Homo sapiens: one gene and its partner. The protein of the gene in region 2 purifies or fractionates together with the protein of the main gene of each other region. This does not show direct contact. Each region holds a gene or a part of one and is shown on either strand. Other genes may lie near its edges.

What was found. The genes of interacting proteins can lie anywhere in the genome.
Region 1: the proteins of ADIPOR1 (region 2) and CDH13 purify together in Homo sapiens (affinity purification with western blotting, with the first as the bait; one study listed by BioGRID). This does not show direct contact.

What each region holds. Positions count from the first base shown.
Region 1 is NC_000016.10:83,795,469-83,799,790, forward strand, and holds part of CDH13 (cadherin-13 isoform 1 preproprotein), read left to right. Parts: 3' UTR 1-4,322.
Region 2 is NC_000001.11:202,947,528-202,952,672, forward strand, and holds part of ADIPOR1 (adiponectin receptor protein 1), read right to left. Parts: intron 3,638-5,145; 5' UTR 3,544-3,637; coding exon 3,403-3,543; intron 894-3,402; coding exon 777-893; intron 1-776. UniProt on the Homo sapiens protein: Receptor for ADIPOQ, an essential hormone secreted by adipocytes that regulates glucose and lipid metabolism. Required for normal glucose and fat homeostasis and for maintaining a normal body weight.

The sequences.
Region 1 (4,322 bases), on a different chromosome or scaffold from region 2:
TCCTTGCAAGGTTAAGCAAGGTGGGTGGAAACTAAGACACCTGAACCCTCCAGGGCCTCCCGCATCAAGGTCAGCATGAGGACAGACCACAGAGCTGTCACTTTTGCTCCGAAGCTACTTCTCCACTGTCCCGTTCAGTCTGAATGCTGCCACAACCAGCCAGGCAGGTCCACAGAGAGGGAGAGCAGAGAAAGAAGTCCTTTCTCTTTATTGAGTTCGAGGACTACAACCAATTTACACTGCCATCTGATGCCGTGATCCTGAGCCAAGGAGGTGAGGAGCAGAGCAGGCAATTTCACCACCAAATGCCAAGAAAAGGGCTGACATTTTCTTTCATGGGCACCAACCTGCATTTGTATGTGTCCCGAATCCACAGTCGTACTGATTCTAATGGGGACACAGATCATGGTAGAGAATCTCTCCCTCCTCAGTAAATGTACAACTGCACCTGTCATCATGGAGGTCATACATGCATACAAAGAGGTGTACAGGTACCATCTTGTATACACATATATACCCACATGTACAGACATACATTTATGCACATTCACGCTGTTTGTTTCATATATACAGGCATAAAATAGAGTAAATACAGGTAGTTTTAAAAGTACCCTTTTGTGTGAATTGACTACCGTTGTTTGCAAACCCGAAAATAAAAGACGTTCATTATGTATGAAAAGTAACTGATTTGTATTCTGTGAGCATGTAAAAGCGGAAAGTTAGTGCTTGTTCTAAGATTACCTTCTTGTTGATAAACCATAAATGAATCATCAAAGCTCACACCAAATTTTTCTATCAAATAAAACTAGTGACAGCTTGTGGCTTTTTATTAGAGCTCGCCACGAACTAGGGTAAGGTGAGTGTCTTAGCATATTTTAATGCAGTTGCTTACTAAAGGTTTTAACCGCACATGCACACACACACGCTTTCTTATGCAATCTATGTTTGCACTTGTGCTTTCAGTTAGCCTTCTGTAGGAAGTAGAAGTCATATGTTGTCTTTGTTGTAGTGAAATTATACAGATAGAGTTCCATATATTGTATTTGTTTCAATGGTAAATCCTTTTGGAACATATAGAATGCAGAGATTTTTTTTTCCATTAAAATAAATGGGTATTGGTGGTTAAAACTGCTGGACAGTAACTGTTCTCTGATTTCTATCTTGTGTCCAATGTCACTGATGTTGGGTCTTGTCTTAGTGCAAGTTCACATTTTTGACAGACCATTTGGGGTCCGTCGTACATCTCTGGTTGGTGAGTGAGTCTATGAAGACAGAAGTACCAGTTCTCAGCATGGGCCATGGACTCATCTTGTCCACCTCATGATATGATCTGAGGGTGTCATAATCAGCTATAAAGGTAATTGCATACTCAAAGATGAGACGGACCATTCTCAGTTGATGACCACATTAAGCATAGTCATGGCCATCTGTCAACAGTCCCAAGACCTGGGGATTTTTCTCTGGAACAAATCCTGTTGCTGGATCAGGAGATGCCACACCTTGAACTTGATAGGGTCATTCTCCACGAGCACATGCCCCCGACTCAGGGACAGGGGAATCTAAGCCTGTGCATTCACACTCCACAAGATTTCCTCTACTGGCTTTACAGGGCACTGTCACGCGTCTCCCGGGCGCACCTTGCTCCCCTCTTCCTGCAAGGCAGGGGGAGAACGTTCATCCTTGAACAAACAAAGAGCATCCTCAGCCAGTCAGGCGGCTGGTAGCCGGACACATATGCTAACTGGCAATCAGGAAGTCACCCTCCAATGTAAACTTCAGCCACATGCAGGGAGAAACACAGCAGCTGAGTGGCCATTCACTCAAGGAAACAAATACAGCATGACTCCTTTTCTCTCAAGCTGGTAGGCTCTCCTGCACTTTGTGAACCGAACCAGAAGATTAACTTCGCTGAAAATTCAGAAAAATAGGAGTAAAGTGCACACTTCATTAATAAATAGAATATGCCTCAACTTTCCCTTATTTAAACATATTCTCTGTCCCCACAGTTCTAATCAGGACAGAGATACTTCTGTCATGTTGTTCCTCCTAATAGTTTCCAGAAAAAAAGGAAAATAAACCAATTCTTATAGGCCAAAGTGGTAGCATTTCCTGAATCATAAGATGTTTTGTTCATTTGCTGGAATATATTACATTGTTTACTGAAAACCATAGTAGAATCAAAATGTTATTTCATTATTACCTATGCATTTTATCTGAGTCCAACTTATTAAAAAACGAAGTCAAGTAAGGACCAGAAATTGCTTTTCCCAATTACTGAGCACAGGTCTGAGGGTTTTATTTCCACTGAGCAAATAGTCACACCTTCACTTCTTTTTATTAATACTCAACCAACTTAGTTGATTAAAAATCACATTTTCTCCCTCATTTTACATACGATAAATTAATTATTTTGGATAATTTGTTTTAATAAGAATATGCACACATTTTCTAATTTCAATAAAAGTCACCTTCAATACCGCCAGTTCTCTCCAAATGAGCATCATTCCAGGCAGATATACCTGCTGTGCCTCTTGGCCGACACCAGCAAATCTAAGCATTATAACGAAATAAATCCAGCCAGATTTCATGGTAGGTATCAAATAAGACTTTGGCTCTTAAAGAACATCGTTAGAAATTTTGATAGCTCATTCCAGAGTTTCAGAATGTCATTTAAAACAGTCTGATAAATGGAACAACCATCTACCATCACACTCATAGAGTAGCTCAAATTGCATTTTACCCAAATAAATACACTGGGTCTTAATCTTAAGATGTGACAACTAAAAAATTTTTAACAAGTCTGTGTTTGATCCTGGATTTAGTGCAGTTGCACCCAGGCACGAGCTCTCCAGATGATTCTGAGGAAAGGAGTCTACAATTTTCCTAGGGGGTGTATGAACATGGTACCAAAAAGGTGATTAATAATTATAATAATGGTTTATATTTATCAACTGCTTATTATGTGCCCACACTGTACAAAATCCTTACAGATAGTAACTCATTAATCCCTCCAGTAACATATGAGACAAGCACTACTATCTTCTCCAACTCACAGATAAAGAAGGCTGAGGCTCAGAAAAATTGAATGGCTTGCCCAAGGTAAGTGGCCTCCAGAACCAAACCTCAGGCTATCTGGCTCCAGGGTTCATGTTCTTCCGACAACATCACAATGCCACTCTCAACCCAGGAGCAAAACCAGACAAAGTGCCTACTGCAGACCGGAAGACCCTCGTTTGAAGCCTCCATTAGCGTGACTATGCAGCTAGACCAACTTACTGTTAAGCAACAGTACCTTTTACTATGAGGTACCCTTTACTATTAAGTACCTTTTACTAACAGTATCTTCTGTTACCTATTATTAAGTTCATGCTATACTTCTTCAATCTGAAAGCTTTCTGTTAAAAAAAAAAATGTTAACATCGTTCTAAATTAATATTGAGACCTTAGAAATTTTTCCTGTGCAAGATAACGTAATTATTTGCCCCTTCCCTTCCATGGCTTGTTAGCAGGTAGATGAGGGGCTTCTCCTAGATTAATTTAACATCTCAGTTAATCAAAAGTAGCCGGGCATGGTGACTCATGCCTGTAATCCCAGCCCTTTGGGAGGCAGAGGCGGGTGGATCACTTAAGGTCAGGAGTTCAAGACCAGCCTGGCCAGCATGGTGAAACCCTATCTCTACTAAAAAATACAAAAATTAGCTGGGTGTGGTGGTGCACACCTGAAACCCCAGCTACTCAGGAGGCTGAGGCAGGAGAATCGCTTGAACCCAGGAGGCAGAGTTTGCAGTGAGCCATTGCACTCCAGCCTGGGCAACAGAGCAAGACTCCGTCAAAAAAAAAAAAAAAAAAAAAGAAAGAAAAGGAAATTTATGAACTCCAGAGTACCCATTCACTACCAAACCAACTGAGGGGAGAGAAAACTGAGGGAGAAAGTGGGGTGGGGTCTCAAAGGGTTTGCACTGTGCTTTGCTATAAATCATTCAAAGGGGCAAATTCTAAAGGATCTCTAAGTAGTTGCTGATTTTGTAAAGGTAGCCCATAAATCTGTTTACGTGTAGCTGCCTTAAACATGAGTCAACAGGGTAAGTCACACCAACAGGAAACCCAAGCACTAAAAAAGCCACCTACCTTTTCTGTTTACCAAATACTAAGAATAATAATCTAATAATCTGGCTACATCTTTCATAAAGACCTCCATCTTCTCTCCTTAACTGACTGTTGAGATTTGATAATTTTCACAGTCTAATGATAAAATGCTTTCAAAATGGTTCATCTAACACAATTAACAATTCTTTTACTATATGCAATGTGTTACCCTTACT
Region 2 (5,145 bases):
TATATATATATGGTACAACCTCCTTTAGGCTACTTGAAATTTCAAAATTGATATACTGAATAAAAACAAAAAAATTATAAACGTTGTTTTAAAAAACGTACAGATCCCTCCTTTGCCCCTCTCCAGGAGATTCTATCTCATGTCTCATCCCTCCCCCAATTAGATTCTAAGTTCTTACCACATCTTTTTAGAGTAGGGGTTCTTAATCTAGGATCCATGCACTATGGACAGGATCCAGGGAATAGATGGAAAAAATTGTATTTCCATTTACCTCTAAGTAAATTGAGCATTTTCCTCAATTATAAGCATAAGCAACAAACCACAGTATTAGTAGAACTTGTGGCTTTGTCACCAATAGAAATCAGATACTCTCACACATTAGTTCTGCAGGTATCTCAAAATACTGTTTCTATTCATCATTACTTAGAAATTACAAATTTTAATAAAATACATTAGTGCTCATCATTCATGTATATTTAATGTGTTAACAAAGGCATTCATATTACTGTCATATTGAAATATTTTGATGACTTCCAAAGGCGCCCCTTGCATAGAAAAGAATCCGTTTTAAGAATATATTTTGAACAATGCCTCACAGAGTAGGCAGTAAAAATTTAGCCAGTCTTCACATTGATTTACCTCATCTTAACCAAAAAACAAATCCACTCCTTCCCAGGAATAAAAGCTCTTCGACCCAGTGCAAGCTTGCTGGCTGGGGACATCCCAGACAGGCCTGCTGCCCTTCCCCTTCCAGGACAGAAGCTCATAGGCCATACCTTGTACACAAACTCTTCCATCTTCTCCATGGCGTGGTGGGCTTGCAGGGGAAGTGTCAGTACCCGCACCTCCTCCTCTTCTTCCTGGGGCACTGGGCATGTTTGCTCTTCTTCAGCCTATGGGGGAAAAAACCCACAACAATCCAGGGAGTCATCTCATAAATTGTACTATTCCAGAGCAGAGAGACCCAGAAAAACCCAAACCTAATGCCTTCTGCCCAGCCTCTTTCCTACAGAGGGTCTTGTGGTCTCTTCTCCAAAAGCATACACACTGAGTTTACAACACTAGTTAGAAATTTATTAATACTTCGTAAATGCTGGAGTGAACATTCTATGCAGTGCGTAAAAGAAGGACTGTCACAGAGACTAGCATTGGGGGAATACACCAGCTCTAGGTACTGAATGACATCCTTTTCTTTAGGATAGTGGTTCTTAACTTTCCTCAGTTTCCCAAAGAGTTCTCTTTTCTAAGCCATTACATTTTCTTTCTTTCTTTTTTTTTTTTTGAAATGGAATATCCCTCTGTCACCCAGGCTGGAGTACAGTGGTGCGATCTCTGTTCACTGCAACCTCCGCCTCCCGGGTTCAAGCAATTCTCATGCCTCGGCCTCCAAGTAGCTGGGATTACAGGCGCCCACCACCATGCCTGACTAATTTTTGTATTTTTAGTAGAGATGGGGTTTCACCATGTTGGCCAGGCTGTTCTCAATCTCCTGACCTCACGTGATCCTCCTGCCTCGGCCTCCCAAAGTGCTGGGATTACAGGCTGAGCCACCATGCCCAGCCTACGTTTTCAAAACAACGAAAAAGACACAGAGTCTCAGAGAGTTCCATAACAATAATTCTGTTCAGAGTTCCCTGTTCACTGACTCTAGGGATGCTGTCATGATTGAAACTTTGTATCTACAGCAGCTCCCAGGAGTACCAGGGCCTCAGAACTGGTTCCATGGAAAACAGCGGTACTGACTCCAGGGCCTAAAAAAGCGCACCCAGAGGGCCGGGCGCGGTGGCTCACGCCTGTAATCCCAGCACTTTGGGAGGCCGAGGCGGGCGGATCACGAGGTCAGGAGATCGAGACCATCCTGGCTAACACGGTGAAACCCTGTCTCTACTAAAAATACAAAAAATTAGCCGGGCGAGGTGGCGGGCACCTGTAGTCCCAGCTACTCGGGAGGCTGAGGCAGGAGAATGGCATGAACCCTGGAGGGCGGAGCCTGCAGTGAGCCGAGAACGTGCCACTGCACTCCAGCCAGGGCGACAGCGAGACTCTGTCTCCAAAAAAAAAAAAAAAAAACACACCCAGGAGAGCACTTGCCTGTGAAAGGGAGAGAACTTTCTCTCTCTCTATCCCAAGGCTCCGAATCATGGCTATAGAAAGCCTGGCAGTTCAACTCCTTTTCTGGGCTATTTCTCTCCTGTTGCTGATGGTCACTAGTAAACACATGGTCCATCTTAGATTTTGTGCTACAGCTTCCAGCCAGTCTACCCTAACATCCATTCTCTCTCTTCCTAAGTAACAAAGCCCACGGTTTTGTTCAGGGTGGCAATGTTACTGCAATTTTACTCAGGCTGCACTTTCTAACCTCCACTGCAGCTGAATATAGTTATGTAAGTAAGTTCTGGCCGAAGTCTTATGAGGTACTTCCTGATAGTCCCTTTATTTATTTTTGTTTTTTCTGAGAGGGGGTTTCACTCGTTGCCCAGGCTGGAGTGCAATGGCACGATCTCGGCTCACTGCAACCTCTGCCTCCCAGATTCAAGCGATTCTCCTGCCTCAGCCTCCCGAGTAGCTGGGATTACAGGCGACTGCCACCACACCCAGCTAATTTTTGTGTTTTTAGTAGAGAGGGGGCTTCACTATGTTGGCCAGGCTGGTCTCGAACTCCTGATCTCAGGTGATCCACCTGCCTCGGCCTCTCAAAGTGTTGGGATTACAGGTGTGAGCCACCGTGCCCGGCCCTGATAGTCCCTTTAAAAGGCAAAGAGTTGGCCGGGCACAGTGGCTCATACCTGTAATTCCAACACTTTGGGAGGCTGAGGCAGGAGGATCACTTGAGCCTAGGAGTTTAAGATCAGCCTAGGCAACATGGCGAGATCTTATCTCAATAAAAATAAAAGGGAAAGAGAGGGCCTTTCTTCTCGTTTCCCTTTCATGGGGGGTAGAATGTGGGTATGATGGGCACATATTAAGAGTGATGGGAGAGCAACACAGGTGCCTGACAGTGGTGGATCCTCCATATCAGCCCTGGATTGGTTACTTCTGAAATTCTTTTGCTTGAGAGACTTCTGTCCTGTCAAAACTGTAAGGATTTTTGTGTGTTATATGAAGTCAAACCTAATCCTAATTGACTGCTTCCTTCATTCATTCAGATATTTACTGATTATTTATTGGACTGCAGGCCTTGTGCTAAGCACTGGTGTTACAAAGATGAGTGCATTCCCAAAAGCTTACAATGGGGAAAGCAGACAACAAGATGTTTATAACAGTATCATAGGGACTTGGATAGAGACATTTCCAGGATGCAATGTTCCTCCTTTTGGACGGTGAGCTCTTAAAAAAGAGAAAATGACAGAGTTCTAAGGAGAGAAACTGAACAAGGGGATGACTCCTGGGAAGATGACTTACTTTGGGTGGGTTGGCGATTACCCGTTTGCCCTTCTCTTCTAGCAGGGGTCCCAGTTCAGCCAGTTCCACCGTGTCAGCTTCCCTGTTACTGGCAGGAGCCCCATTCCCCTGTGCCACCACAGATCCTTTGTGGGAAGACATCTGGCTGGTACCTCAATACCCTGCAGCTTCAGCTTGGGGAAAGGTTGGGGTCTCTCAGCCCCAGGGGGCAGAGATCTCCCTCTGATGGTAGACACTAAAAGAAAATACAAACATGAAGGATTGACAATTTATTCCTCTTACAGTTTCATTTCTATACTCTAATACTGAATAAGAAGCTAATCAACTCATATCCTGTCCCCAATTCTAAAGGCCAGTTAATTGCTTAAATGAAATCTATTCCTGTCCTCCCTCTTTAATGTCAACCTTTACCCAGAACCTCACTAATCTTATAGGTAAGGCTGAAAATGTAACACCTAGTTGCTTGCTTTCATATGATCTATGGTTACTGCACCAAACTGTCACCATAGAAAAACAGCTACCCACCCTCAACTCCCTCCCACAGGTATGGAACCATTTAGTGAGAAGAATCTCATCTATCACTCCCAAAGCTCACTCTGCCCAAGAAAGGCCTAGCTCTGAGACCGAGGAATAAAAATATAAAGCCAACATCTGGCTGCAATTACTACAAGATCATCCAGGCTTAGAAATGAATTAAATGCCAACTGAACTCAGTTAGACCTTATCTACAAATGCTCTGATAAATGTGTCATACATACAAAAGGAACTTGGTTGTGGGACAGATGCCTAGTGGTTAATTTCTCTGCGAAGTCTACTAATTCTATTACAGGATTATAGCCTGAGTTCAACCCTGGGATAACAAGCTTTCATCACAATCTGTCCTGCAAGCAAGCAAGAACTTACCTGGAAGCAGGAAGGTGAAGACAAGGAGGCAGCCCCAATTTACCCTTTGCCACACACATACCTAATAACCAGCTCCACAATAACTTGTTTCAACCACCACAACCCATAATCTAAGCCCTACTCAAATGAGTATTTCAGAAACTAGAGACAGGCACACACAAAATCAGAAAAACCCAGAATTCCATTTTCTAGGAAAAATCTCAGACACTTTAGGTTTTCCTGGGTTGGATTTTCACAGTAGTCTTTAAACAGGCCTCAGGGAAATGCAAATAAAAAAAGAGGGAAAGAGGGAGAAAGTTTCCAAAGATTTCCACTATGCTGTAAATTATTAGTTCTCTCCCCACCTCTACCCCCATACAAAGGACTTTATTAGTTATAGCAATAGCAGTAGCCAGAATATTAGCATTTTCTTGCATTGGTTACCCAAGCCCCACCCAAACCCAAATAACCACATTGCAATGCAGGGAGGGCCAGGTAACAACTGCACATGGAGTGGGTTGCATTCCGGGAGAGGAAACTTAAGCTTAGGGAGCCCCAATCTTTTATATTGGGCAGTAAACATAACTTTGCTCCTGAGGGAGACACTATATCATCCATGGCTATTCACTATATACAAATATCTTTGATATCTTGTGTCAGTTCTTTTTTATCTAAGAGTAATCACAATTCCTTCTCAGGGATTATAAATCTCTTTCTCTGACTCCCTAACTCTCTCTGTCTCTCCCCCTCCTTCCCTCCTGGAGCTGGGACACCCTTCTTTTCCTGCCCTTGGACATCAGAAACTCCAGGTTCTCCTGCCTTGGGATTCCGGGACGTGCACCAATAGCCCCTTGGGTTCTC